4 linked regions of the Homo sapiens genome follow. The protein of the gene in region 4 purifies or fractionates together with the protein of the main gene of each other region. This does not show direct contact. Each region holds a gene or a part of one and is shown on either strand. Other genes may lie near its edges. The genes, in order: WAPL, REC8, NIPBL and SMC3.

Evidence for each region.
Region 1: the proteins of SMC3 (region 4) and WAPL purify together in Homo sapiens (affinity purification with mass spectrometry; 7 studies listed by BioGRID and IntAct, with this or other methods). This does not show direct contact.
Region 2: the proteins of SMC3 (region 4) and REC8 purify together in Homo sapiens (affinity purification with mass spectrometry; 3 studies listed by BioGRID and IntAct, with this or other methods). This does not show direct contact.
Region 3: the proteins of SMC3 (region 4) and NIPBL purify together in Homo sapiens (affinity purification with western blotting; 4 studies listed by BioGRID, with this or other methods). This does not show direct contact.

What each region holds. Positions count from the first base shown.
Region 1 is NC_000010.11:86,518,770-86,525,821, forward strand, and holds the start of WAPL (wings apart-like protein homolog), read right to left. Parts: upstream 3,024-7,052; 5' UTR 2,596-3,023; intron 1-2,595. UniProt on the Homo sapiens protein: Regulator of sister chromatid cohesion in mitosis which negatively regulates cohesin association with chromatin. Involved in both sister chromatid cohesion during interphase and sister-chromatid resolution during early stages of mitosis.
Region 2 is NC_000014.9:24,167,809-24,175,081, forward strand, and holds the start of REC8 (meiotic recombination protein REC8 homolog), read left to right. Parts: upstream 1-4,271; 5' UTR 4,272-4,744; coding exon 4,745-4,800; intron 4,801-4,904; coding exon 4,905-4,973; intron 4,974-5,090; coding exon 5,091-5,233; intron 5,234-5,317; coding exon 5,318-5,390; intron 5,391-5,482; coding exon 5,483-5,603; intron 5,604-7,273. UniProt on the Homo sapiens protein: Required during meiosis for separation of sister chromatids and homologous chromosomes.
Region 3 is NC_000005.10:36,872,808-36,879,771, reverse strand, and holds the start of NIPBL (nipped-B-like protein), read right to left. Parts: upstream 3,004-6,964; 5' UTR 2,594-3,003; intron 1-2,593. UniProt on the Homo sapiens protein: Plays an important role in the loading of the cohesin complex on to DNA. Forms a heterodimeric complex (also known as cohesin loading complex) with MAU2/SCC4 which mediates the loading of the cohesin complex onto chromatin.
Region 4 is NC_000010.11:110,562,923-110,570,697, reverse strand, and holds the start of SMC3 (structural maintenance of chromosomes protein 3), read right to left. Parts: upstream 3,004-7,775; 5' UTR 2,882-3,003; coding exon 2,867-2,881; intron 1,761-2,866; coding exon 1,685-1,760; intron 1-1,684. UniProt on the Homo sapiens protein: Central component of cohesin, a complex required for chromosome cohesion during the cell cycle. The cohesin complex may form a large proteinaceous ring within which sister chromatids can be trapped.

The sequences.
Region 1 (7,052 bases), about 24 Mb from region 4:
TCATGGCACTAATTCACATGAGAAAAAAGGTCCCCAAAATGGTGCTTTTTCTCATGTTTTACAACCTGCAGCTTTTAACCCAATCTTGAAGATTCTGCTTCTTGGTGTAATGTAATTTGCGCTGTGACTTTAAAAATGTTCCTTAGATGGTCATCTCCCTAGGGAAAGAAACTATCCTTATCCTATCTGCCTTGTCCCGATAGTGCTGTGCTCATTTGCTGAGTTATATTTTCTGGGGCTAGTGAGCTCCAGCATATTACACTGTTTCATGGATTAATACAGACATAGAAACATACAACTTTTATTTTCCTTTTCAATTTATAAATGGCAAATCGATTCACCTGATTTATCTACTTCACAGGACAAAAAAAAAAATCTTTAGGGCAGTAAATCAAGAGTCAAACATTTTTTAAAACAAGTTACTTGCATTAGTTCTGTGCCTATTAAAAAGTTATAGTACTTTTTAAACATGATCAATCAGTAACCGTTTGTCTAACACTTTGACCTTTCTACAGTTCAAACATGAATACATCGAATATAACTTTAAAAAGTGAACAAGGGCCTAAGGAATGAAAAATCATTACTTTGAAAGCTACAAGAATTGAAATTATATTTGACCTATACTTTTGAATATGTTTTGATCTACACTTGTTTTCCCTTGATTAACTTAAATTCTTACCATTTATAATGAGTCACTGTCTGAGTTTTATATAAATTCAGTAGTAGACCCCCCCCCATGTTTGGTGAGAACCCAATTTTAATTTGACAAGGTAATAATTTAGTCATCATACATATCTGCGTTAAGAGAAAACAGTGTTCCTGAAGGAGATGTATTTCATCTTCCACTGCAGCTCTAACACTAACAAGTCTTACTGTCTTTCTTGTTAAGTACAGCCTAAACAAAACAGGATACTGGGCAACTACCACGGACAACAAAATAAAAATCGATTCTCTGTTCCTTCAAGAATGTAAAGCTGAGATCCTGCAGGTCTGTAAGTGTACGTACACATACACACCAACAAAGATGGAATGTTTTGGATTCACTTATGTGCTAATCATCTAAAAATACTAACCAAAGGCCAAACCAAAAATCTAGACTTGAGTTCCTTTATGCCAACATCAGAAAAACTGTTAAAATGGTTCTATAACCACAAAGCATTCACTGTTGAAAGTTTGAAGTCTTCAGATGAATACCTGACACTAAGGACTTAATTATTTTATGTGATAAAAAATAATTTTGTGCTGGCTGGGGGCGGCAGGTCACGCCTGTAATTCCAGCACTCTGGGAAGCCAAGACGGGCAGATCACCTGAGGCCAGGAGTTCGAGACCAGCCTGACCAACATGGAGAAACCACGTTTCTACTAAAAATAGAAAATTAGCCGGGCGTGGTGGCGCATGCCTGTAATCCCAGCTACTCCGGAGGCTGGGGCAGGAGAATCAATTGAACCTGGGAGGCGGAGGTTGCGGTGAGCTGAGATCGCGCCACTGCACTCCAGCCTGGGCAACAAGGGCGAAACTCCGTCTCAAAATAATAATAATAATGATAATAATAATTTTGTGCCAAAAGACCACGTCTTTTACAAATACATAGTGAAATACTGATGAAATAACGTCAGCGATTTTCCAACATTAAGGAATGAGAAGTGTATAGATGAAATAAATTTGTTTAATAGTCACTGCTAAATCCAAGCGATGGGTACAGAGAAGTTCATTATATAATATCTCCTCCTGATTGCCTTTATCGTTTCCCACAATAAAATGTCTTTGCAATGGCATTATCTAAGCGTAAAGCACTACAGATTCCAAAATAAGTGTGCAGACGTCCTTGAAGTTAAATTTTAAGTGTTTCAAGTACACAATCTTGCTCAACCTTTAAACTCCAAAGACTGTCCTAACTAAAAAGGAAAGAATGATTGACGACTAAGTCTTTTCGGTCGTTCGGCTTTTGCCCTAGCCCAAAATCAGGTCGAATTTTGAGAGAAGTGCGCTGTGATTTAAAAAAAAAAAAAAAAAAAAAAAAGCAAAAAGCCTTTATACTTCACTCCCACCCTAATCTAGCGTCTTCCCGATCCCCAAAGGCTTTAAGGGCTTCCATTAAAGATGGAAAGCGGACGGGACGAACCTGACTAACCAGAAATCCTCACCTGGGGACAGCCGGGGCGCCACGGGCAGTGGGCGCGATGGACCCCTCGGACTAGACACTCAATGCAACTTTTCTCCTCCCAACCCGCGCCGCCCAGGAAAGGGAGGTCACTTTCGACGCCCCGGAAGCCTCTGCCACCGAATCCTTAAGGCAGTGCAAGGCCCCAGTGGCGGCCAGAGGCGGATGAAACCACGGGAAAGGACTCGGGGCTGAAATCAACACACTTGACTGGGTTTGGGGAGCTAAGTCAATCAGCAGTCGCCCGAAAAAGAACTCCGAAAAAGGAAAATAAAAGGGGAAAAAAAGAGTTCCTCAGGTCATTCCCCTGCCCAACTTCCTCAGCGGCCCGGTGGGCGAGGCAGTGAGACTTCCACCGCCCGCTCCCAGCCTCTGCCTCCCCCACCCTCCCGGCTCCCTCCCGGCCTAGGCGGCCGCCCGACACCTCACTTACCCTCGGAGCCTGGCGGGTGCTTTGGCCACGGGCCGCCTCCGCCTCTCCCGCTCCCTACGGCCCGCGGGCGGGCGCGGAACCCTCGCGCGGGAGAGCAGGGCCGGCAGGTGAGAGCCGAGAGAGGCGAGGGACTCTGCTTTCGGTAAATAGGAAGCCCGGTTGGGGGGGCAGGAGCGGCGGCCCCGCAACTTCCCTCCCCGCCTCGAGCGCCGCCGGCCGGGCCCAGGCCTAGCTCTCGCTGGCCGCCACTGCTGGAGCTGGTAACAGAGCCTGCTGTGTGCCCCCGCTGGGCCGCCGCCGCCTCCTGCGCCGCCGCTTCCGCCGGTGAATGGTCAGTGCTGGAGTTTGAACAGGGCCCTGAACCATCTCAACGCCATTTGCGCTCCCGGCCCCCACCTCCTTCCTCCAACAGCCGCTCGCTCCGTCACTCCGCTTCCCACAGTCCCCGCGCGGCCGCCCGACCCCGCAGCCAATCGCGCAGCCGCTTACTCAAACCGCCGCGCAGGCGCTGCGCCCCGCATGCTCCGGCGCCCGCCATTGGCCCGGCCGCGGAGCCCGACGGGAGTTGTAGTCCAGGTCCGCGAGGTCGCGGGCCGAGGACCAGGCGCGGGAGCGGGAGCGGGCGACTGGCCGGGCCCTCCCGGTCTCGGCAGCCACTTCTAGCTCCCGGCCCAGCCGGGAGACGCAGGTGCCACGGAGATGGGCAGCCGGGCGGGTGGCGCAGTGCAGGCAGCTGTATCAATCGCTTCCCCTCCAGGGACCCGCCGGTGCCTGGGGACCGCGGGCTGTGCAGCTGTGCCGGGCCTGCGGAGGCCGCCGCCCGGGAGCTGGGAGGCAGGGGGCGCGTGGTCAAGAGCCGCCCTCGACCTGGCCTGGTCGGTCCTGGCCCGGCGTAGGTGACGATGGCGGGGACCGCGAGGCGCCGGACACCCGAGGCCACGAGCAGCGTCGCCCCTCGCTTTTTCGCGCCCCTCCAGCCCTGCAGTCCTTCCTCTAAGTCCGTCTGCCCCTCACCGATTGAAAGTGGCCCCGAGAATATTGGATGGTATTGAGCAATTATCATTAACTTTGTTGGGTGTGGTAACGGTAATGTGGTTATGGTTTTTTGTTTTTTTTTTTTTAAGACCTACTGATGTGTTGACAGAGTGATCTGGTGTCAGGACTGTAAAATACGCCTATGAAAACTGGGGGAGAGGAATAAAACAAGCTGGCAGAACGTTTTTCATCGTTGAAGCTGCGTGATGCGAGCATATGTGCTCATCATACAGTCTCTTTACTTGTGTATCTGAAATTTTCCATAATAAAAAGTTTAAAGAAGTGAACCAGCGATTGCCTCTAGGGAGGACAGTGAGGTGGCGGATGACGGGAGGAAGGAGTCTTAATTTTTCGCTGTACGCCTTTTTGTGCTATCTTAGGTTTTTCCCATTCAATGTGTTACCTAATTCAGAAAATTGGTAAGTTTTTTTTAAGGCTACCATGGGAAAACAGCGTTCTAAAGAGTAGCGCAACCAGTTCCCCCTAAGAGAGGTGCATGATTCGTCGGACTCCGACAGCCTTGGTGTTTGTTAGGCGGTTAATGGAGACCCACCTGGGAAATTAGAAAACTACTAATTGCTTTCAGTGAGAAGCCCGCCCTTCTCCCACAAATGGATAATTTGCTTTTAATGCACCCAGAAGTTATCCAGCTCCCTCCGGTATAATCGGGGAAACTCCAAATAAAGGAAAAATAGTTCAGAGACCCTGCAGCTCTTCCCAAGAGGAATTTAAGGTGGATTTTAGTGTGGTTGGATTGTTTTGCCTACCTGACTGCAGAATTTATATTCTGACATTTACAATTTCCTAAATACTGAATCAGTACTTTTTCTTGTTTCAAAATAAATCAACTTCTTCTGTAGTTTATATGAAAAACAAGTCCATGTCTTCCACTGTGGGTGGGATGCACATGACTGTTTTATTTGGGTCAGTTTTGTCTCTTTTTTTAATTGGCAGTTTAGGAACTTGTTTTTATCATTTTGTTTAAAGATCTTCTGGCAGAGGTGCAGGCTGCACTTACTATAATTATTTAGATGACAAGGTGGTGGGTGGTAATTAAAGGGTAATTATCATCAGAGGCAAAAGGTAAGATCAAAAAACCAGAAGAGGTGAGGAAACAATTGCAAGATCTTCCTGTAGGAGGGTGTCGTGATCCTCCCAAGACCAAAGGATATGTCTATTATGCCTGGCCTCTCTAGTGCTGGACACTTGGCAGGGTCAGTGCCTGCATGAGGCTGAAGTGGAAGGGCTTATTGTTTAGACTGGTGCCTTTTGAGGGCTTTTATGTGATGGTTGTGTTAAGTAATGAAACTTAGTAGTGTCAAATTCTTGCCACTCAAAGAATGATCCCCAATCAGCAGTGTAGCATCACCTGGAAGCCTGTAAGGAACGCATAATTCCTATCCCTCACCCCAGCTCCACTGAATCAGAACCTGCATTTTAACAGGATTCCCCCAGCTGATTGGGCTGCACATTAAAGTTTGACAAGCACTGATTTAAAGTATACCCATAGCATTTGACAGCAATCTAGTATTTTTCGTTAGGATGAGGGAGAGGAAGGGAGATGATTAAGAACCTCCTATGCATCAGGTAAGATGCTAGGCTGTTCAGGGGCCTTGTCTGCTTCCCAGTCCATTACTCTATCTTACAAGTAAGGAAATGGGAAGACTTGTATGTTACAACTAATGAGGGAGTCAAACTTTTTCTTGACGGTTGGATACCCTTTAGTACTTCTTGGTGTTCTTGAATCTGGTAGAAAGTGGTACATGATTTGAGAAGTAAAGTGTGTGTGAGTGTGTGTGTGTGTGTGTGTGTGTGTGTGTATTTAGTCTGTGGAAGCTTAGTATATGAATATTAAGCAGAGCTCTTCTGGGCTCTGTACCCTTGTGTGGCTCACACTAAAGACACCCCTCGGGCCCCTCCTGGAGGGAGTTCAGACTCCTGGCCCTGCAGGCTGTACCACCACCTTAACCCCTTACCTCCCTGCTTCCACTGAGGCAAGCAAATGCCCTGAAGTCCCCTCATTCCCTTACCAGGGCCCTGGGTTCCACACCAGAATGAGCAAACAGAACTCCAGTGTGGGTAACACATGGCTGAACAGCTTTTTGTTGTATTGTTTTTGTTTTCTTAGTTCTCTCAGCTCAGGCTCCATCCCCCTGGCCACCTCAACCCCTAGAATGGTTGTCTCCATTTCATGAGAATCTTCACACTAACATCAAGTAGCCAGTAGGTGCTTTTGGTTTTGCTAGAATGCCTGTGTGCAAGCTCTCAGATACCTGATTTTCTTTCCCCCACTGAATGTTGTGTTTGTCAGAAACTGAAATCATGGATCAGAGCCAAGTTTGTAGTACCCTTAGGAGGGGCCTCTGCCCTCCTGTGTGCTGCCTGGGTGAGGACAGAACCCCCTAACCTGGAGCTCCACTTGAGTGGGCCCATACCTGTACTTTCCTCTGAAAAAAGAAAATCCTGCAAAGAAAATAGAAGACATCTGTTCTGCCATTGCCATGCCCTTGTTCTAGCCCAGACATGAGAACTGTCAGAATTGGAGTTACTAAATAGAACTTTTAGTCTTTTTCTGATAATGTGTAGTAAAGTGTATTACAACTTATAGAATTCTATTTAGGGAACTACAGGTCAGAAACTACCATATTGGTAGCAGTCAATTTTTCTTTGCCATCGGATGTGGAATAAAATGTTAAATTGTACACTTGCATGTTGTGGTTATATTACAAAGCTCTACGAGATGTGGGCCAGGCCCTGCCCTTTGCTCATGCAGCCCCAACTTTCTGCTCTGCCCACACCTGACTCCTTGCTGTTTCCCCACCTTAGGGCCTTTGTATTTCCTATTCCCTCTGCCTACAACTCCCCCAGATACCAGCCTGCTTCAATTCTCTCCTCTAGGTTTTCACTCAGATGGGACTTTTCAATGAATCTCCCCTGACCAACCTATCTTAAATTGTTGCAACATCCTCACTCCTAAATGTCACTGTCCCTGCTTTACTTTCTTTAAGGGCATTTATCTTCCCATCTAACATATCAGGCATTTTGCATGTTTATCTTAAATGTTGTGCTCCCTCTGAAGGCAGGGATCTCTGCCTGTCTTGTTTTCTGCTGCAACCCTAGCACCTAGAAGACTGCCTGGCACAAGAGTAGGTGCTCAATAAATATTTGTTGAATAAAAGCACCCATTTATTTCCTTCTTTCATGTAAAATTATATACATATATTATATATATATATATATATATTTTTTTTTTTTTTTTTTTAGACGGAGTCTCGCTCTGTCACCAGGCTGGAGTGCAGTGGCGCGATCTCGGCTCACTGCAATCTCTGCCTCCCTGGTTCAAGCGATTCCCCTGCCTCAGCCTCCCCAGTAGCTGGGACTACAGGCGCACACCACCACACCCAGCTCATTTTTTGTATTTT
Region 2 (7,273 bases), on a different chromosome or scaffold from region 4:
TTCCCTTCAGTCTTGTCCATCATCCCACTGGGAAGCCAAGCACCTAGACATTCTCTGCACTAGCAGTGAAGAAATGAGGTACTGAATGCAGAGGTGTACAAACCCTGTTGTGCCCTCAATGTGATGCAATGTGATGAAATCCTTCCTGGACCTTCTTTGTACAAGGTCTAAATTATCTCCTTGACTTCCATTTTATTTTAATTATTTTGATTAAAAACAAAAACTTGGCTGGGCATTGTGGCTCACACCTGGAATCCCAGTAATTTGAGAGGCCGAGGTGGGTGGATCACCTGACGTCAGGAGTTCGAGACCAGCCTGGCCAACATGGTGAAACCCCGTCTCTACTAAAAATGCAAAAAATTAGCCAGGCGTGTTGGTGGACACCTGTAATCCCAGCTACTTGGGAGCCTGAGGCAGGAGAATCGCTTAAACCCAGGAGGCGGAGGTTGCAGTGAGCCGAGATTGCACCACTGCACTCGAGCCTGGGCAAAAAGAGCAAAACTCCATCTCAAAAAAAAAAAATTTTTTTTTTCGGCTGGGCGTGGTGGTTTATGTCTGTAATCCTGGCACTTTGGGAGATCGAAGTGAGAAGACTGCCTTAGCCCAGGAGTTTGAGACTAGCCTGGGTGACATAGTGAAACCCTACTTCTACAAAAAATTCTTTTTTTTTTTTTTGAGACAGAGTCTCACTCTGTTGCCCAGGCTGGAGTGCAGTAGTGCAATCTTGGCTCACTGCAACCTCCACCTCCTGGGTTCAAGTGATCCTCCTGCCTCAGCCTTCTGAGTATCTGGGATTACAGGTGCGCACCGCTATGCCAGGCTAATTTTTGTATTTTTAGTAGAGACAGGGTTTCACCATGTTGGCTAGGCTGGTCTCGAACTCCTGACTTCAGGTGATCTGCCCACCTCAGCTTCCCAAAGTGCTGGGATTACAGGCGTGAGCCACTGCACCTGGCTCCCAAAAATTCTTAAAAATTAGCCAGGTGAGGCCAGGCATGGTGGCTCACACCTGTAATCCTTGCACTTTGGAAGGCCCAGGTGGGTGGATCACTTGAGGTCAGAAGTTCGAGACCAGCCTGACCAACATGGTGAAACCCCATCTCTACTAAAAATATAAAAAAAATCAGCTGGGCATGGTGGCACATGCCTATAATCCCAGCTACTTGGGAGGCTGAGGCAGGAGAATCACTTGAACCCAGGAGGCAGAGGTTGCAGTGAGCCAAGATCGTGCCATTGCATTCCAAGCCTGGGCATCAAGAGCGAAACTCCATCTCAAAAAAAAAAAGTGGGGGAAAAAAAAAAGCCAGGTGTGGTGGTGTGTGCCTATAGTCCCAACTACTTGACCTCCTAAAGTGCTGGGATTACAGGTGTGAGCTACTATACCTGGCCTCCTTCCGTTTTCTATCATACCCCACATCCAATTCATCAGCAAATCCTGTCGCTCGCTATTCCTTCAATATGTATCCAGGGTCTGACCACTTCTCTCTGTTCCCATCAGCAACACTTTGGAACAAACTACCACCATCTCTCATGTCTCCTCCTCTGCTTCCTTCACATCTGTTTCCACACGTGTCTACCTTAAGCTATTCTCAACACAGTAGAGATTCTTTTCACATGTAATTCTGATCATGTCACTCCTCTGCTCAGAACCTTCCAGTGGGTCCCAAATCACCCAGGGTAAAAGCCCAAATCCCCATAAGGACCTCTGAGGTCCTGTGATGCGACCCTACCCTCCTCTCTCTCTCTCTCTCGCCCCTTGCCATTCTTCCCCTGTCACTTTGCTCCAGGCTCCTTGAACCCACCAAACACATTTCTACCTCAGGGTCTTTGCATTTGCTGGTTCTTTTGTCTAAATTACTCTTCCTTCAGGTAGGCACATGACTTACCCACATTCTTCAAATTTTATCTCTTAAGAGAGGGGGCAAGGCTTCCCTGAGTACCCTCCCTAAATAGCAGCCGTCATTATTCTATCCTCCTATGCTGCCTCATTTTCTTCATAGCACTTACGGCCACTTCATGTATTTCTTTTTTTCTTTCTTTCTTTTTTTTTTTTTTTTTGACAGAATCGCCCATGCTGGAGCACAGCAGTGCAATCATGGCTCACTGCAGCCTCGACCTTCGGCTCAATCGATCCTCCTGTCTCAGCCTTCTGAGTAGCTGTGACTATAGGCATGTAATTTGAGAGGCCGAGGCGGGTGTCACCTGAGGTCAGGAGTTTGAGACCAGCCTGGCCAACATGGTTGAAACCCTGTCTCTACTAAAAATACAAAAAAATTAGCCAGGCATAGTGGCACATGCCTGTAGTCCCAGCTACTCAGGAGGCTTAGGTAGGAGAATTGCTTGAACCCAGGAGGCGGAGGTTGCACTGAGCCAAGATGGTCCATTGCACTCCAGCCTGGGCGACAAGCAAAATTCCATCTCAGAAAAAAAAAAAAAAAAAAAAAAAAAAAACTCTCAAATTGAAGGGGACTGTAAGAAGATAGGGTCAGCTCAGCTGCAGTAAGATATAAGTCTCAGGAAGAAGCATGCTCTGGAGTCAAGGCAGAGAAGGACATTCTAGGCCAAAGAAATGGCTGTGCAAAGGTAGGAGGCATAGGGACAAGGGTTATTATTACAACTGTACCTCTTAAATTTACACAATAATTGTTGAGAATATGGCTTTTCCAGGCTAGGAAGTTGTGCTGCATCCAAAAATGCTAAAGTCTATTTCAGCCGGGAGAACACTGACAGCTGGGAAAGGACCACACGTGGCGTGCCCATAACCTAAGTTGTTCAGATTTAGGAAGTGACCCCAGTAAGTCCTTTCGGAGTTTCGTGTAAGATTGACTTCTTCAGCTGGGGGCAGTGGCTCACGCCTGTAATCCCAGCACTTTGGGAGGCCAAGGCGGGCGGATCACCTGAGGTCAGGAGTTCGAGACCAGCCTGGCCAACATGGTGAAACCCCTGTCTCTACTAAAAAATACAAAATTTAGCCAGGTGTGGTGGTGGGCGCCTGTAATCCCAGCTACTCGGGAGCCTGAGGCAGGAGAATCCCCTGCACCGGGGAGGCGGAGGCTGCAATGAGCTGAGACTGCGCCACTGCACTCCAGCCTGGGTGACAGAGTGAAACTCCATCTCAAAAAAAAAAGAAACCAGCCTGGCCAACATAGTGAAATCCCGTCTCTTCTAAAAATGCAAAAATTAGTTGGGTGTGATGGAGGGCGCCTGTAATCCCAGCTACTCAGGAGGCCAAGACACGAGAATCGCTTGAACCTGAGGGGATGGGGGGCAGAGGATGCAGTGAGCCGAGATTGCCGAGATAGCGCCACTGCATTCCAGCCTGGGCAACAGTGAGAGCCTCCATCTCAAAAAAAAAAAAAAAAAATGGACTTCTTCCTCATTGACCTGTGGTGGCTCCAAGGCCATCAAAAAAAAAAAAAATGGACTTCTTCCTCATTGACCTGTGGTGGCTCCAAGGCCATCATCTCACAGCCTTTTTTTTTTTTTTTTTTTTTGAGACGGAGTCTTGCTCCCTTGCCCAGGTTGGAGTGGAGCTGCATGATCTCGGCTCACTGCAACCTCCGCCTCCCAGGTTCAAGCATTCTCCTGCCTCAGCCTCCTGAGTAGCTGGGATTACAGGCGCGTGCCACCACGCCCAGCTAACTTTTGCATTTTTAATAGAGACGGGGTTTCACCATATTGGTCAGGCTGGACTCGAACTCCTAACCTCATGATCCGCCCGCCTCGGCCTCCCAAAGTGCTAGGATTACAGGCGTGAGCCACTGCGCCCGGCCTCATCTCACATCTTTCTTCCTCTGCAGCACACGACACGCCCTAGTTGGAAACAAAGTCGGAGTTTGTGGATTGGGGGAAGGGCGGGGTCTAACCTCAGGTCAGGCGCCGTGCAAGGTACATCTTGGCACCCGGAAGAGGCCCAGTACAGTTGCCCCCGAGGTGACCCGACCTCCCCTACCAATTGAGGCGCCCTTGTTGCCAGGCTTGCGGCGGGGGAGCGGCGGGGGAGCGACGGGGATGCGCTCATTGGTCAAGGAAGGGGCGCCTGTTACTAGAGGCGAGAACCGGAGCCCATTGGTCGGAACACCTCACAATGGACCCCAGCGGCGCGCAAAATCCTTATGATTGGTTTGCTGGCTGCCTCGGGAGACCCTGTTGCCAGGATACTTGGCGTTCCCGACCCGACCCCCGTTCCCCATTGGCTGTCAGGGCAAAAGCCGCCATCTAATGAGGAGCGAGGTGCGGTGCCCCGAAGCGCTCGCTTCCCGCGGTGCGATCTAGTCCTGCAGTAGGCGGCCCGGGGCCACACCGCGGCCGCCCAAGCCAGTGCAAGGCCCAGGGGCCTGACATCGCTCCCAGCGCTCGAGGACCGAGGCCTGCTGTGGAGGACACCGTGCTCCCTCGGGACCTGCTCTGGATTCCGGCCCGGACGTCCCCTTGGAGCTCTGCATCTCCAACCTGGAACCCAACCCAGAAGTCTCAAGTTTGACGCATCACGTGGCGTGCGGATCCACTGAGGGTCCACAGAGAGGGGCGCCCATCTCCTGCGTCTCAGTTATCCTGGTAATTGTGTATCTGCCCATTGTTCGTTGCCTCATTAACTTGGCTTTCTAGGTGCACCCACCTTGCCACCAGAGAAGTCCAAATCCTGACTTCTCTCCAAGGTGTTGGGAATTCTGTGCCCTAAAGAATTCCGACTCAGATCCGAACGGGGATCTGGTGGAATCGAGGGTGAAAGACCAGAGGGACAATGTTCTACTATCCCAACGTGCTTCAGCGCCACACCGGCTGCTTTGCCACCATCTGGTAAGGGCGGGGCCCGTTGGCGCGCGATGGCGGACGCTGCCCGGGATCCCAGCCTGACAGCTCCCCCTCCATCCCCATTCTCCCACCTTCCCCACCCACTTCAGGCTGGCGGCGACTCGCGGCAGCCGGTTGGTGAAGCGCGAATACCTGAGGGTGAATGTGGTGAAAACCTGGTAAGGCCCAGAAAAGGGAAGGAGGGCCTGGTGCGGGGGGTGAGTTAGGGGATGGGGTGGCCAAGACTGTGGGCCCACTCCTGGACGCAGCGGTAATCAGGGCGCATTGTTCCCCAGCGAGGAAATCCTCAATTACGTGCTGGTACGAGTGCAACCCCCGCAGCCCGGCCTGCCGCGGCCCCGCTTCTCCCTCTATCTCTCAGCCCAACTTCAGATCGGTGTGATCCGCGTCTATTCTCAACAATGCCAGTACCTCGTGGGTAAGGCTGGGAACCCTCAAAGGTGGGGCGGGCTGAGCAGCTGTCTGCTAAGCTGGCTGTCTACCTCGTCCTCCCTGCCCACAGAGGACATCCAGCACATCTTGGAGCGCCTCCACCGTGCCCAGCTGCAGATCCGAATAGATATGGAGACTGAGCTGTGAGTGTGCCCTGGGCCTTTGATGGAACACCTGCTAGCTTGGCCTCAGCCTGGCTCAGCCTCAGTCCTTCACGGCCTACATTCTCTCCCAGACCCAGCCTGCTGCTTCCTAACCACCTGGCCATGATGGAGACCCTAGAAGATGCTCCAGATCCCTTTTTTGGGATGATGTCTGTGGATCCCAGACTTCCTAGTCCTTTCGATATCCCTCAGGTAGGGCTCATTCCCCAAGACTCGTGAATTGGCAATGCAGAAGGGGAGTGCTGTCCCTGTGTCACTCTGACATTGGGGTTGGGGAAGGAAGCTTACCACAGCTCTCTCCCACAGGAGATGGTGCAGGGGGACTGCCAAGGTGGACCCATCCAGGCGAAGCCCCCTGTACTTACCTACTCAGGGCCAATCTGATCAGACGGTTTCCCCACTGGAGGCAGCTCTTGTCCCCACTTGTCTCCACACTGTTTTCACTGCCAAGGCCCTAATCCAGGCTCTCATCTCTCTGCACTGGGCTTTCTTACCCCTGTCCTCCTCCATCTATTCCCAATACTCCTACAGCTTAATGTCACCCCCTTCCTTGGTTCCCCATTTGAACAGTGGCTCCTGCTGCAAACAGATTACTAGCATTTGGGGCTCTCCATGCCCCATTTATTTCTTTTTTTATTTTATTACTATTATTATTATTATTTTTGAGACAGGATCTTGCTCTGTGGCCCAGGCTGGAGTGCAGTGGCACGATCTCAGCTTACTGCAACCTCTGCCTCCCCGGTTCAAGCAATTCTCCTGCCTCAGCCTCCCGAGTAGCTGGGACTACAGGCATTTGCCACCATGCCCAACTGATTTTGTATTTTTAGTTGAGACAGGGTTTCACCATGCTGGCCAGGCTGGTTTCGAACCCCTGACCTCATGATCTGCCTGTCTCCTCCTCCTGAAGTGCTGGGATTACAGACATGAGCCACAGAGCCCGGCCCAATTTTTTTAGGGTTTCGCCTTATCGGCCAGGCTGGTCTCGAACTCCAGACCTCAGGTGATCCACCCACCCTGGCTTTCCAAAGTGCTAGGATTACAGACGTGAGCCATCGCGCTGGCCTATTATTATTATTTTTTGAAATGGAGTCTCTGTCACCCAGGCTGGAGTGCAGTGGCATGATCTTGGCTCACTTCAACCTCCGCTTCCTCTGGTCAAGCGATTCTCCTGCCTCGGCCTCCCGAATAGCTGGGATTACAGATGCCTGCCACCATGCCCGGCTAATTTTTGTATCTTTAGTAGAGATGGAGTTTCATCATGTTGGTCAGACTGGTCTTGAACTCCTGATCTCAGGCACTCCACCCGCCTCGGCCTCCCAAAGTGCTGGGATTACAGGTGTGAACCACCGTGCCTGGCACATACCCCAGTTTAGAACTAGTCATCCCCAGACTTCTCTCTCAGTCCTCTGGGCATCTGTGGCTCCTAAACACTAGTTTGGCCCTTATGCCTCAATGATGCCACATTCACATCTTTGCTTGTACTGTTTCCCTAGCCCATAATGGTCACCCCTCATCCTCTACAAGTCGGGTTCTACATATTCTTACAGACCTGGCTCAAATGCTGCCCTTCTCTATGAAATATTTATCCCAGTCTTAGCCGGAACCAAATGCAGTTTGGGAACTCAGTACTTTGCTAGGGCCTTGTTTTACCCTTTGCCTTGACTCTTGTGGGGTTACATACAACCTTGTCTCCCCACTAGACTTCCTTAAGATCAAGAATCTTTTCTGTTCACCTCTGTCAACCACAACACTTGCCAAGGATAACGATGCACTGCTGCTTGCACAAATTTTTTTTTTTTTTTTTTGAGACAGAGTCTTGCTCTGTCACCCAGGCTGGAGTGCAGTGGCTCAATCTCAGCTCA
Region 3 (6,964 bases), on a different chromosome or scaffold from region 4:
AATAAGCGACATTGTTGAAATTTCCTTTAGGTGTATGAGAAAATATTTCTCCAAATAATATAACTAGGATTATAAGGTTACTGGAACACTTCTGATTTCTCCTTTCACTGAATTTTAATTTTTAATGGAAATAGATGATTAGCCACTAGTGAATATTCCAACCAACAGAGGGGAAGCAGAACACTCTACACTCTTTAGGGAAACAAACTATTCTCTCCAACTAGGTTATCAGAGATTTAAAGTTCAAGTTTAAATTTTACAATTTGAATTTTACACAATGTTTTCTCCTTTAAAAATGACGTATTTAATTGGTTTGGACCAAACAAAACATATTTTTAAATTTAAAGAAATGTTTATGCTATCATAATGAAAGCTATCACACAACCTATATTACTCACAAATTACTAAATATGTAGAATTGGGAAAATAAGTTGGGAAGAACTAATTCACTATAACAATTCCAAAGTCTCAGGAAAAAAAAGAATCAATCACATAAACCCATCTCTAACACACTTATTCAAACATCTGCATAAGACAACCTCTAAAAATAAGTTGCTTCAGTTCGTGAAAATTAAGCAAGCACAACTCCTCTATTATCTTTAGTAAAAATATGTTTATCCCTTGAAATAAAAGTTGTAGAGACAATCACAGGAATATATGAAGGCCTTTTAAACATTTATAATGAAGCCCTTACCACCTCCATCCCCAAAAAAACAAACCCTCTGCTTTCTTAAGATGTGAAGTATTCCTCCCGTCTGCATTCCCTCCCTGGCATGCCCCCCACTCGCACACCCCCCCACCCGCAGTAGGCCTGAGGCCCCGTAGCAAACAGTGTCTAACAGGAGCAGGCAGCACAAAGACAGGAATGGGAGATTAGTGGGAGGGAGGGAGGCCGGGATTGGGGCTCAGCAGGAGCTTCAGGCTTTTTAAAATTCAAACTGCTCCCTGACCAATACAAATCACGGACACGCTACTGACTACTACACGGATTTATAGCATTAAAAACATGCCTAGTACGTGACAGCTATATTAACTTCATTCTTTTAAACATTTATCCGTACGTTTGCAGGAAATGTGAAACAATTTATTGTAATCAGGACGCTAAACTCAAAAATAACCTCCACAAAATAACTTATTCTACAGTGACAATAATTTAATGACACAAAAAATATGAACCAATGTAACAAACACTAGTAAAACAAGGGATTTCGCTGAGCAGTGCTGCTTCATTTTAACCAATGAAAGTTTTCCTTCAGCGAATATGAAACAAAATATCAAAACGTGTAACCCAGGTACACTTTTCTAGCAATTTGCCTGACTGAGGAATTTTAAATTGGTGTTTCCCCCTTATACCAACCTACATTATGAACGCCTCCATAAACAAGCTCGAAACACTTAACTTACTCATGAACTAGAACTTGTCAAGTTAGAACTGATATTTTTCTCCAGCATTTACAGATACATTTAACCTATTAAAATGACACCTCTCTCATTACACAGTCAAACATCATGGCACAAACAGCCAATGACAATCCTGGGACCTCAAGAAGAACTGCCCTGACATAAAAGGATGGCACCTTCTACAATTTTTTAACCTCCCAAGGATTTTAAGTATAACTTAATTTCTTTTTTGGAAAAAGAAAAGAAAAGTGGTTTTACCCGTATCTCAGCACAATTCTCAGAACACTTAAAATTCTTTGTATGCTCCTACACGTTTTGGTCAGGAAGTACCTGAGTGTTTTACGTATAGTCGCTTAAAACTGCCCTTACATAACGCATACAAATAGAAAGTGGCAGAGTAAACCTGTCAAGTACTTTATACTTGTCTTTGAATAAAAAGTCCATGTGCAACAACACACTGTCAAAACAACAAGATAAAAGCTCTTGGGGAGGGGGAGATGTGCAGTGTCTACCACAGTATGTTTTTCTGTATTAAATATTCATGTGGACGATTTAATTCTTTAAAAAAGAAAATGAGTCTTTATGAACTTTCCAACGTCCAAACAAGTTTTAGAAAGAGAAAGAATTACCACTGGATCCGCGTCTGAGTATTTACGTTTGTCTCACTAACTGAAACTACTTCCTCCCTTCATGGGGTCACAGGGGGAAGAAGGGAGGTTGTTTGTTTCACTGGGACGTTCCCCACTCCCGGACCGGGAAAGTTGTAAATATGGGGACGATCAGGGCACATTTGCTGTTAGTTGTATTGTTTCCGCCTCCCCACTAGCTACGGCTCCACTCCCGGGCGAGGCCTGTCACCGACCAGCAGTCGCTCCGCTCAGCCCGGAGCTCTCCTAATCCCCGAGCTCAAGTAGATTCCGCTGGCCCGCGGCCTGCACTCTCCGCCGGGCCTACGCCTCCCCGGCCGCCCAGCAGGAGCCCAGTCCCCGCCACCGGAGCCGGCCGGGAGAGGGTACAAAACCACCGCTACCCAAGGCGGCTGCCACCAGAGAGGAGCGAACTCTAGACTCGCCTGTGGAAGAGACCTGGGGCCGCTAAGGAAACGGCGGGGAGGGGAGCGAGGAGGAGAGACGCTGAGGACCTGGCGCCGGCGCCGCCGCCGCCGCCGCCGAAATAAAGAGCAGGAATTTACCTGGGCGAATCGGCGTCTGAATCCAAGGGGAGGCCGAGGCCGCTGTGGCGAGAGACTATAATCCGGGCCGGGAGGGGGGGTGGCTACGGCTCCTCTTCCGTCTCCTCAGTGCGGGGAACATGTAGAGCCGGGGGGAGACCAGCCGAGAAGACAAATCGTTGCTTCTTCTTCCTCCTCCTCCTCCTTCTCCCACATAGAAACACTCACAAACACCCGACCACGGGCCCGAGCTACCGGGGGGGCATCGCCGCGGGCCCGGGAACCAATTCTCCTGTCGGCGGGGGCGTCCCTCCCTGCGGCTTGGTGGTGTCGGGTGAGTCGGTACCGACGGAGGGAGGGGGGGGAGGGCGGGGGGAAGGAGCCCTGTGTGTGTCTCTCTCTCGTTCCGTCTCTCCCTCTCAGAACAAAATGCCGACCGGAAGTGCAGCTGCAGGAATGACTCCCTCCGCCGGCGCCAAACACTAACAACCACCCCCTCTTCCCCACTCCACTTCCGCCACCGCCGCAGCCGCCGCTGCCGCCACTTGGGCTCGCGTCCTCGGCCGCGCCGCGCGGCACCCGGGCCCAGCAGCCGGGAGGCGGCAGCTCTCCTCTACGCCCGTCCCCTCAGGGCGGCTGTGGATGTTGCCAGTATTGTCGATGCTTCAGAGCGACGTTTGCCCTGCGACACAGGCGGGCCGGCTCTCCTCTGTCTTTATTTTCCTGGAGGCCGACAGGAGCGGGGCCCGAGTTCGGTGGTGGTCGTGAGCGTGGGGGGCACTCAGGCCCGGACGGGCTCTCAGGTCGCCGACGGCGGCGGCTGGAGGCCGCGCTGGCTGTCCCAGGTCGTCGTTAGCTTTAGGGAGCCGATCTCCGGGCGGCCCCACAGAGGACGCCCGCGATTCGATGGCGATGATGCCCGTTTTAAATGGTGTCCCTGCAGCCGGGTGGATGGATGGATCGTACACCTTGCCTTTTGAGAGCCGGGACCTTACGCCCGACTGCGTGTTATTTCTGCGAATAAGAACGCAACCTTTGGAGGTGAAGACGACTGTCGGCTGGATTGAATTGGAATCGTGTTTGTGATGATGCGTTTATTTCTGGAAATACGCGGTCTCCGCTGCTTTTGCTTTTTGTCGGCAGAGGTTTGGGTTCTTCTCTAACGGTCAGGATAAAGGCCTGTAGGCGACGCTGCGCGAGCGAGAAGCTCGCCCGCGGCTGCCCGGGCGCCCCCCTCTAGGTGTGGGTGGAGCCGAGCGCGCGGGGAGAACCGCCGGCCCCGACTCAGCCACCGGTGACTGCGGGCGACCCGCGGGCCTGCGGCCAGCTGATTTCAAACATCGTTTTCCTCTTTAGGTTCGGAAAACTGAGGCGCTGGACAAGGCTGGAATACAATATGTGATTATACGTACAGTACTATGGTTGTTGTAGTTTTTAAATTGTAAAACAAGAAGTAACCATTGTTCCACCGTTCTCTATTAAGTTTGTGTAAATTAAAAAGGGGCTATTTTCGGTAAAAAGTGCAGTAGGTAAGCGGAATTTTACTCAACCGGGACGAAATTCGTGTTATATGAATTGTATTGTGTATTTGTGTGTGTACCAGTGCGCTAAAAGTAAGTAGGAAAACTTGCTTAGATTATTCCTTTTGCCTCAGGCCACTCAGGGGGCCAAGATCCTGTCACTCCTTTTCTCTAGGCCCTGCGAATGGCTTCCCGTCTTGAGGGGAGTGAGCCAAAGCCTTGACTGCGGCAGAAGTCCCCGCGCGCCGTTGAGGGTGGGGGCGGGCCTGCCCTGGCATCCTTGCGAGTAGGACTCTTCCCTGAGCGTCGTCCACAGGGCTTGCTCCTTCACCTTCAGGATTTTGCTCGTGTCACTCGGTGCTTCCGCGGCTACTTTTAAACTGAAAGTTCCCTAGCCCCCTTCTCATTTTATCCTTTGGACAGTCTACATATCCATACTTGTTTATCTTCTTATCTCTCCTTCCCCAGTGCAATGTAAGCTCTAAGAGGACAAGAGGTTGTGTTTTTCTGCACTGGTGTTACGGCCCCCGCCTAGAATGCCACACAGTAGATGCGTAGTATGTGGTTAAGGAATGAATGCGATTATAAGGGCCTTGATGCTCCCCCATTTCTGTCTTTAATATGTACTTATATGCTACAGAGAGCTTTATAAAAGATTTAAAACACGTTTATTACAGAATTCTATAAAAATATATTGCTTCTAAACATTGGAAAGCCCTCCACAACACCAGAAACCCACAAATGAGGGATAAAATTTGTTTTTAGGCTTCTGTAAATGAGCATGCCCGAGGACAGTGCATCAAATGATCATATCCATACTGGGCCGATTATGTTTGCTCTTCTGAGTCTCAAACTGCATTCTTCATCTTGTCGTCCTCTGTCTTTCAAAATACATTAAAAGTGAGAATTTGGTTGGCTCAGAGCAAATCCAGCACTATTGGAAAAGTTCATTCAGCAAGTATTTATTGGGCACAAATGGGTACCAGGCACGCTAATTCAAAAGGTGTGTGTTTCTGAGGCTAGAAGGCCTTACATAAAGGACCACATGTGGCTACTTTGGTTGCTACTCAATTATGCTGTCAAGCAAAGCAAATGCTAGTGAAATTTATTTTTAGTTTTCTTCTGAAGAAAAGGTTCAATGAAAGCTGAGGTCAGGCTTGGTGTGGATATTTTAATTCACCATTTAGTTTGCTGTTTGCTTACACTTAGGTTAGCATTAGATATACTTAATCATGATTTTTGAGTACTATAAAACGTGAGAAATCTTATTTCCTAGTGGCTGGAAAAACAGGCTTTTTAAATTAAAATAAGTAAATATATCAGTAAGCTAGAAGCTATGCAATAAGGCTTTGGCTATGGTATTACAAATTTTCATATTTCATGTATTGAATTTTTGGACAAGAAAAGACAGCCTTGATAGGTATTTTATAACCATTAATACAATTAATCAAACATTGTTTAGTAAATCCAATCGTCTATTCATTATTATTTTTCCCATTAATCTTCAGAACAGCTTTAAGTTAATACAGATGACTCAGAATGTGTTTTTCACTCAGTTTCAAAATACCATTATTTCAATTCGCTAATAGAAGCACAATTATCTTCTTGTCTGCTTTCTTAAATGTTACTGGTAAACTAGTAATTTTGCATGTCCAGGTAACTGCAGCTGCTACAGTCAATCTGCTTTGGAAAGTCTTGGCATTATTGTGTCATTTAATTTAAAATTTTTAAGTTTTTTTAGTTTCTTCCCTTATTGAGGACTTATTAGGCGCTAATTAGCTTTATGCTAGACATCTCATGCATGGCAGTGAATGAAAACAACACTGCCTTTGAGGGTTTTAACTTGTATATAGTTTATACCATTTTTTTTCCAGGTTATAGAATCAAAGAAATTGTTTCAATTCATATCACAGTATTTCTCTATTAAATCAAATGGTATTTTGCTTGCATAAATTTAAGTATCCAAGTTGAGATCTTACATAGAATCTGTTAATCTAATATTAGTGTTTTCTTCATTTCATTGTCTTGGGTTTTTTTTTCTTAATAATTATTTTTCCCAATACCATCCATTTGTTTTGCTCTTACATTTTTAAGTCTTTTATGTTCCAAATCAGGTGACTTACATCCTCCACTTGTCCATTGAGGATAGCCCAGTAAACCTTTATTCTGACTTTAAATTGCCTCCTTGCTTCAAGAACTGAGTTGCATGACTCAGTTTTCTTTGCTAGAAATATCCCTGGATAGTCTCGTATGTATTCTTGATCAATGAATTGCAGAAGATTTGATTAAAAATTTTAAATGGATTTCAGGGATAAACTATTTGTATCAAATGTCATCACCAGGAATTTCTACAACTGAAAAATTTGAATTGTTATTTTTATTGAAGAATATTTATCTTTAAGATAAATGCAACTTGCTATAAAATGATAGAAATGAAAAATTTTAGAAAATCATTTTCTACTCACTATTTTATGCCTGCCAGTTATCCTTTGTTAGTGATAAAATTGTCTTTTATGGGAACGAATTTGTTAAAGGTAGAAAAAAAACTGGTAGTGTATGTATGTTTTATAGATTAGACACTACCAAAATTATTTAACATTTAGAATAATTAACTTGCTTTCAGGATGACAGATGACTTAAGAAACTGATGAAGGGTTAATTAAGGATATTGATTTTTAGGGCAGAACTACAAAATTATCAAATCACTTAACACTGTAAATATGTTCCTGTTTCAGGTTTTCAAAGTAAATACCTTAATCAAATTTGGAAATAGTATTTATGGATTTTATTCAACATAGATTATCTATTTTGTTAAAATTATAGAAATGAACAGTTCTTTTCCCATGGATGCCTTTTTTCATCTTGGCCTATT
Region 4 (7,775 bases):
AAATGTAATCATTCTAGCTAGTAAGTTACAGATCATTTATAAAATCACACAAATGAAATATTAAGGTACTTATTTTAAGGTGCAAGTTAAAGAAAACAGAAATCTAATAATTCTTATTTTTCTACATTTCTAAAGATTTTCTGATTGATGAAAAAAATCAGAAAGTACTTATATGTAAGCAAAACCCCAGTACAATTAAGCCACCCTATGGCATGTCAATTCAATTAAATGACTTCAGTAGACAGAGCACAAGCAGGGAAAAAAAAAGTATGCCTTCTTTATTCCCAACTACAAGGCTGCTATTGATAAATCGAGGGCAAAAAAACCTGCCTTCAATTTTATCATTTTATACAAAATGAAGTATGATTCTCTAAAGGTCTTCTGGAAACATTAGTAATGTGAATCTCACCCACGCACCACAGACTGAATTGAACTGACACCCTGAAACAACTGACACCTTAATCCCGAATGTGATAGTATTTGGACATGGGGACCCCTGGAAGATGATTATGGTTAAATGAGGACATGAGGATGGGGCCATGTGAGCACACAGCAAGACAGCAGCTGTCCATAAGCCAGGAAGAGAGCCTCACGAGAACCTAACCATGCAGGTATCCTGATCATGGATGTCTGACCTCCAGACTATGAGAAAAAAAATATCTTGTTTAAGCCACCAGTCTATGGTATTTTGTTATGGCTGCCTTAGCAAACTAATACACCACTTAGTTTGGACTCTGTACAGCAAAACTGTGTCAACAGCAGTCTGTGTTTCTGGTGTCCAGAAGCACTCCTTTCATCTATCCTGTAAAATACTCAGCAGAGTGTCAGAAAACATTTTTGTTAGCTGTATCAGCAAAATGCACACTACAATCTGAGCAATCTATAATGACTACATATTGTTAATGGCAATCACCATTAGCTCTTTATCTTCACACTTACATAAGGTTTCTCATTTAATCTTCTCAACAGCCCTATGAGACAGGTATCATCTCCACTTTACAAATGAGAAAACTGAAGCTTCTCAGAAAGTGAAAAAGAACGTGTGCCACAACTGGGATTTTTTTTTTCGTTGTTGTTATACTAGGATACATGTGCACAACATGCAGGTTTGTTACATAGGTATACATGTGCCATGTTGGTTTGCTGCACCCATCAACTCGACATTTACATTAGGTATTTCTCCTAATGCTATCCCTCCCCCAGGCCCCCACCCCCCTATAACTGGGATTTGAACCCCATTCTGTTATGCTCCAAAGTTTATGCTCTTCCAATCTAGCTACATGGTCTGTCCTTAGAGACACTGACTGCCGGGGTGGGGGGGGAATCCTGGCATCTACTTTGTGAATAAAAATTGTCTGTCTCTGAAATAAGGCAACAGTCAGCATTTTCACTAGGATATATAACAAGAACAGAAGAGCGGAAATGCTTTAAAACACTCTTACACACACATACAAGGCTACCTAGATAAAAAATGGATAACTTATGAGTGTCTTATCCAAACATTTTAAGTTTATAAAAATAAGCAATTCATCAGTGCAATAAGACAGAAAAGTTATTTCACGCAGAAAAATATAACTTAATATTCAAAGACAATTCCTGTCTCCTTAAGCCAATATAGAAATGGACAGAATTTACATTATCTGTATAGACTATAAATATGACCGAGTAAACCAAGAACACTTACCAATCACATTATGTTTTGAACTGAAGGGATCTACAATTGTTTGATCTCTGTAACTTCGAAAACCCTGGATAATCACCTAGTAAATAAAAAACATTTTTGAGAACCCACCCCACAAAAAAAATTAACATTTTTCTCTTGCATTTCTTTCTTGTTTTTCATTTAATGCAATATAGAAAACTCGAAATTTCATATAAGAAAAATTCATTTTGGAAAGTGGTGATTAAAAATCTGCTAAAAAAAAAAAAAGGTACTTTTATCGGTAATCTTTGCCAAGGCAATGCTGCTGGGTTTTATTTTTTTTTAGGAGTTATGCTGTCAACCTGTTAAGGACCTTTCAAAATCAAAAACACTGTGTGAGCTTAACTGAACCCTAAACGCTGCAGTACAATAGCAAGTCTATAAAAGCAGGCCGACGGGCCCCAGCTCTCCTGACTCCAAGACCACCGAGTGCTGCTTTCAGTCACTCACGCCGGCCAGCCTGAAAGAACCCACGTTCCAAAGAAGGAGTGCTCAGAGCCCGACAGACCCAACAGAAAACCGTCTCCAAGGCCGTGTGCCTGGGCTCATCTTTGTGGTGGAGTCCCGCGCGGGAAGACCATTTTGACAGAAGTAAACAACCGAGGGAGGCGGCGCTCCGTATCCTGCAAGCAGGAGGGTCCCGCTCACTTCGCGGGTTAACTGGGGAGAAGAACGGCTCCCCGCAGTGACAGGTGACGACACCCCAGCCAATGCCCCCAGGGCCGCCCCCGGGCCGGGGAAGCCACCTTTCCACACATCCCAGGCACATGGGCCGTGTGAGGCCACCCCTGCAGGACCACACAGCCCTTCCCGCCCGCGGCCGCCCCGGCGGGGTGCCCCCCGCCAGCTCTGGGGCCACCCAGGAAGGCCCAGTCCCTCCCAGCGGCCCGCCCGCCGGCCCTTCCACACCTCTCGGAGATCCTGCCTCTCCCAGACAAGCGCCAGCAGGGAGGCCGGGGCTGCAAAGGAGTGCCCCAATTCTCCGCGACCCCGCAGCCGGGGCACTAGCGGGACCCGGGTCTCCCTCCTCCCCCACAGTCCCCGCCCAGCCCTGGTCCAGCCTGTGGAGACAGGGGAGAGGCTGCGGGTGGCGCCGCAACACTCCCGCCTCAAGGAGCGGCCCTTACCGGCCCATGACGGGGTGGAGGGACGCGAAGGCCTTACCTGCTTTATGTACATGATTCCGGGCCCCTGGCCTGGAAGGAGACCTGCCCCGGAGCAGCAACCGCACGGCCGCAGGGTCAGGTGAGGCGCCTACGCGACCCCTCCCCCAAAGCGCCGCTCGCTCCCCTCAGCCAAACAAAATGGCGGCGCTCGTGGGGGCGGAGTCCGCGCCTCGGACGGAACCACCTTGCAGCCTTCACAGGGCGTAGGAGGAGTCAAGTTCAGGTCTGCTCTTTCTTTTAGGCAAAACCAGTCCTCCACAGCGTTTTTTGGTGGATTTCTTTTGAATCTAGAATTCTGTAGCTAACGCTTTCCTGAGACTTAGTCAAAAGCTTCACTCGGAAAATCTATGACCGTAGGGTTGGTCCGTACCACCTCCGAGCGCGGGGCCAATGGTCGCGTCCACAAAGGGGGAAAGGTTCCGCGCCAAAGCCAAGAGGGAGACTCCGAGGGCCAGTAGCGCCGCGGGCTGTCGGCCACGTGATTCCGCGCTGTTTAAAAAAGCGGACCTCGCGCGCACTGTGCTAGCCTTGGAACACATGGAATGCTGGTGATTCTTGGAATTCTGTGTGCGGAGTCACTGCTGCCCCTTTGTTATCGCTCTCCATAGGAACGTTTACAATCTTAGCACGCCCCAAGCTGGTTACGAATTGCCCACTCGGAGGACAACCCCGAAGGGATTTGTCAATGCTCGAAAATTTGTTTTAATAATGTGATGATTAATTCCGTCGGGAACTGTTTCTGTTCTACCATCTGCTATAAATCTAGGCAGATCTGTACAATTGCAACAAAGATTTAGGTAAGGCTGAAAGCTTTTAATCCACTTTAAAAACAAAAGAAAACAGCCTGAAAGATACTAGGTGCTAGTGGCAACCCTAGGTCTGTCTGATCCTTGTCAGTCTTGGGAGAAAAACATCATTTGTTTAGAAAATGAATCTCTGGGCTGCTCTGAAATTACTTGCTGGGAAGAGAACAAAATAACTACCCAAATCATCCCCAGCCCCACCCCCGCCCGCTGCTGGAGACAATTCTGGCCCTAATTATTTCTAGATTGAACTATTTTTAGTAGCCTCCTAACTGCCTCTGCTAACCAGGGTATCTCCCTAGGAGTCCTTTATCTGGAGCCCGGATCAAATCCTATCCAGCCCTTGGTTTAAAAAAATAAATAGGCCTGGTCGAGTGGCTCAAGCGTGTAATCCCAGCACTTTGGGAGGCTGAGGGGGGAGGATCACCTGAGGTCACGAGTTCAAGACCAGCCTGGCCAGCATGGCGAAACCCCCGTCTCTACTCGAAATACAAAAATTAGCTGGGCGTCGTGGCGGGTGCCTGTAATCCCAGTTAGTCGGGAGGCTGGGGCAGGAGAATTGCTTGAATCCAGGAGGCAGAGGTTGCAGTGAGCCAAGATCGCGCCACTGCACTCCAGCCTGGGCAACAGAGCGAGACTGTCTCAAAATAAATTAAATAAATATGTAAGCATTTTCTTTTCTTTATTTCTAACTTTTTTTTTTTTTTTTGACAGGATCTTGCTCTGTCACCCAGGGTGGAGCTGGAGCATAGTGGCTCGGTCATGGTTCACTGCAGCCTCAAACTCCTGGGTTCAAGCCATCCTCCCACCTCAGCCTACAGGCTGTGGCCACCAAGCCCAGCTTTTTTTTGTTTTTGTAGAGACCAGGTCTCCTTATGTTGCCCAGGCTGGTCTCTAACTTCTGGCCTCAAGCGATCCTCCCACCTCTGCCTCCCTAAATGCTGGGATTACAGGAATGAGCCACTGCACTCAATCTAAACATTTTACTTCTAGATTTTAGTTGTATTATTTAAAGCTTAGGACAGGTATGGTGGTTCACGCCTGTAATCCCAGCACTTTGGGAGGCCCAGGTGGGTGGATCACTTGAGGTCAGGAGTTTCAGAACAGTCTGGCCAACGTGGCAGATAGGATTATCTTATACATCCTGTTTGTAATTCTAAATATGATGGAGTTTTATCATCTTCATTTTATAGACTAGGAAGTGGAGGCTCAGCATGGCAAAACTCCGTCTCTACTAAAAATACAAAAATTAGCTGGGCGTGGTGCAGACGCCTGTAATCTCAGCTACTCAGGAAGCTGAGGCAGGAGAATCACTTGAACCCAGGAGGCAGAGGTTGCAGTGAGCCGAGACTGACACTGCACTCCAGCCTGGGTGATGGAGCGAGACTCTGTCTCAAAAAAAAAAATTCTAAGCCTCCACTTCCTAGTCTATAAAATGAAGATGATAAAACTCCATCATATTTAGAATTACAAACAGGATGTATAAGATAATCCTATCTACCTAAAATTGTTTATACATATGTAGGCAAAATATGAAAAGATGGTGACTAAAACATTTGAATGGCTTTCACAGTGATGGGAGTTTTACTTTCTTCCTTAGGCTTTTCCATATTAAATGAAGCTTATACAATTAGCTTATATAATTTATATAGGCAGAAAAAAAGATCAGCGAAAAACCTAAAATAATCAAAAGGTGATTTTGAGAATGTAATGCTTTTATTTATATTTATGTATTTATTGTCTATCTCTGCACGAATATAAATCCAAGAGAGAAGGGACTTCATTTTGTTCCTGCTGTTACTTAGTAACTAATTCACAGAAAGTACTCAGTATATATTTATGAGTGAAAAATGCACAGAAGCAAAGTACTTACCACCGTGCAGGGCTTACATATGCCAGCTACTGGTGTTTAAAAGCTCCCTATGTCCCCATTCCACCCACCTTTCATCCCCCTTAGGAGCATCATTCTCTTCTGGTAAGTACGTAGGAGTCGAACATATTGATCTCCTTTAGCCAGGATAAATAGTTATTCAAACCTATGAACTATCTGGAAGCAAAGGGACATTCCTGAAAGAAATTGCCACCATAAAGCAGAATGCCAGCCGCACAGTGCCTACTAGCTCATAGCTAAACAACGGAGAACTGCAGCCTTGAAACAGTGCCCCAAAGAGTTAAAGAAGTCTGTGACTAACAAATTCTTGAGTTTGCAGGATAGCAGATGAGAAAAGAAACAACTTGCTGAAACTCCCTCCACTTGTAATATTAAAAAACTGACTGAAATTGCTTGCAATCAACATGACTAACTGGAGTTTGTGCAGAATGGTTTGCTAACATCACAGCCTGAATTTCCAGTGCATGGTTCATACAAACTCCCCGAGTTTGACATATGATCCATGTGGTGGCATGAAGAGGTAACTGTGCATGCCTCAGCACTTTCTAGACCTCCGCTTTCCTTCCGCCAATCACCTACTAATCCCAGAATCCACCCATGAATTTTTTTCTAATAAAATTACTGCTTTAAACCTAGCACAGAGAGACAGATTCGAGCTGGATTCCTGTCTTTTTAGTCAACTTGCAATAAAAAGCTTTTCTTTTCTCAAAAACCCGGTATCATAGTATTGGCTTCTAGCACATCAAGCACTGAGCCCTTTTTGCTTGGTAACATCATTTTACATCTAAACATCCCATTAACAACACATGGCATCACCTCCTCAGTGTTTTTATTTCTCTCCCCCAACCCCACCTCAGATTGATTCAGCATGATCACTTAGACACACTGGAGTGGGAGGAGGGGAAAAAGAGACACTAATCATAAGTCTCTTTAAGAAGGGAGTCTCTAATGCTCAAAGCACAGACACACAACAATCATAATCCCGTATATTTGTGTAGCTCCTCACCCAGCTTCAAAGTGCTATCATGTGTATGGTCTGTCTTAGATTTTTCTCACTGATGCTGTGAGGAGCAAGGGTACTTATTTTGCATTGGGTTGGAAACCCAAGGGTCTTATGCTGACTCCATTTGACAAATTCCATGAGTTGGGACATGTCATTTTACCATGTGACTTTCTGTAGATAAAATGGGAATATTCTCTGCCTTTCCAGGCAGCAAAGATGCAGATAGACATTTGCCCCAACAGTCAGTGGTCAGACTTTGGGAGAGCCGGGTCACATCCTGGCTCTATCACTTGCTGATGTATGACCTGGGGAAGATTAACCTCCTGAAGCCTGTTTCCTCATCTATAAGTAAAGATTTTAATGATATCTATGGAAATTTCCTTGCAGGTAAATTAGGATGATTTATTTAAAATAACTGGCACAAGACATAGTGTTAGCTATTTTTGTTATTAGTTCATAGCCAAACTTGTAGTCAGCAAATCCCTGGGAAAAGACAGCAAAGAGCTAAACTGAAAGATCAAAATGCCAGGAGAAAACTGACCAAACACTCTGGGACCACCTCACCCCCCATTATTCATTCATTCATTGAACAGATATTTACTGATTACCTCTAGCATGAATGTGTCCTAATAGCGTTGAGGAGAAAGAAACTTTTCCTCTGCCCTTTTATGTTTATGGGTGAGGTGTGGAGTGGGGGGAATCCATGAACATAAGAGGACAGGAGCTTAAGGCTTGGCGGCGATCGCCTGTAGTCCCAGCTACTCCGGAGGCTGAGGTGGGAGGACGGCTTGAACCTAGGCGTTCAAGGCTGCAGTGAATCATGACTGTGCCACTGCACTCCAGCCTGGATGACACACTAGCAAAAGAAAAAGCAGATTTTAATCACATACGTACATGTGGGAGTTCACAAAGAAATGTGACTCAAAAGGGCAGTTACAATTTGGGGCTTATATAACCCAAATGGAGTTTGAGACCAGCCTAGCCAACATGGCAAAACCCCATCTCTGCTAAAAATACAAAAATTACCCAGGCATGGTGGCCTGCAACTGTAATCCCAGCTACTAGGGAGACTGAGGCAGGAGAATTGCTTGAATCTAGGAGGCGGAGGTTGCAGTGAGTTAAGATCACACCACTGCACTTCAGCCTGGGTGACAGAGTGAGACTCCATCTCAAAAAAGAGAAAAAAATCCATTTTGACTGTGTGCTCATT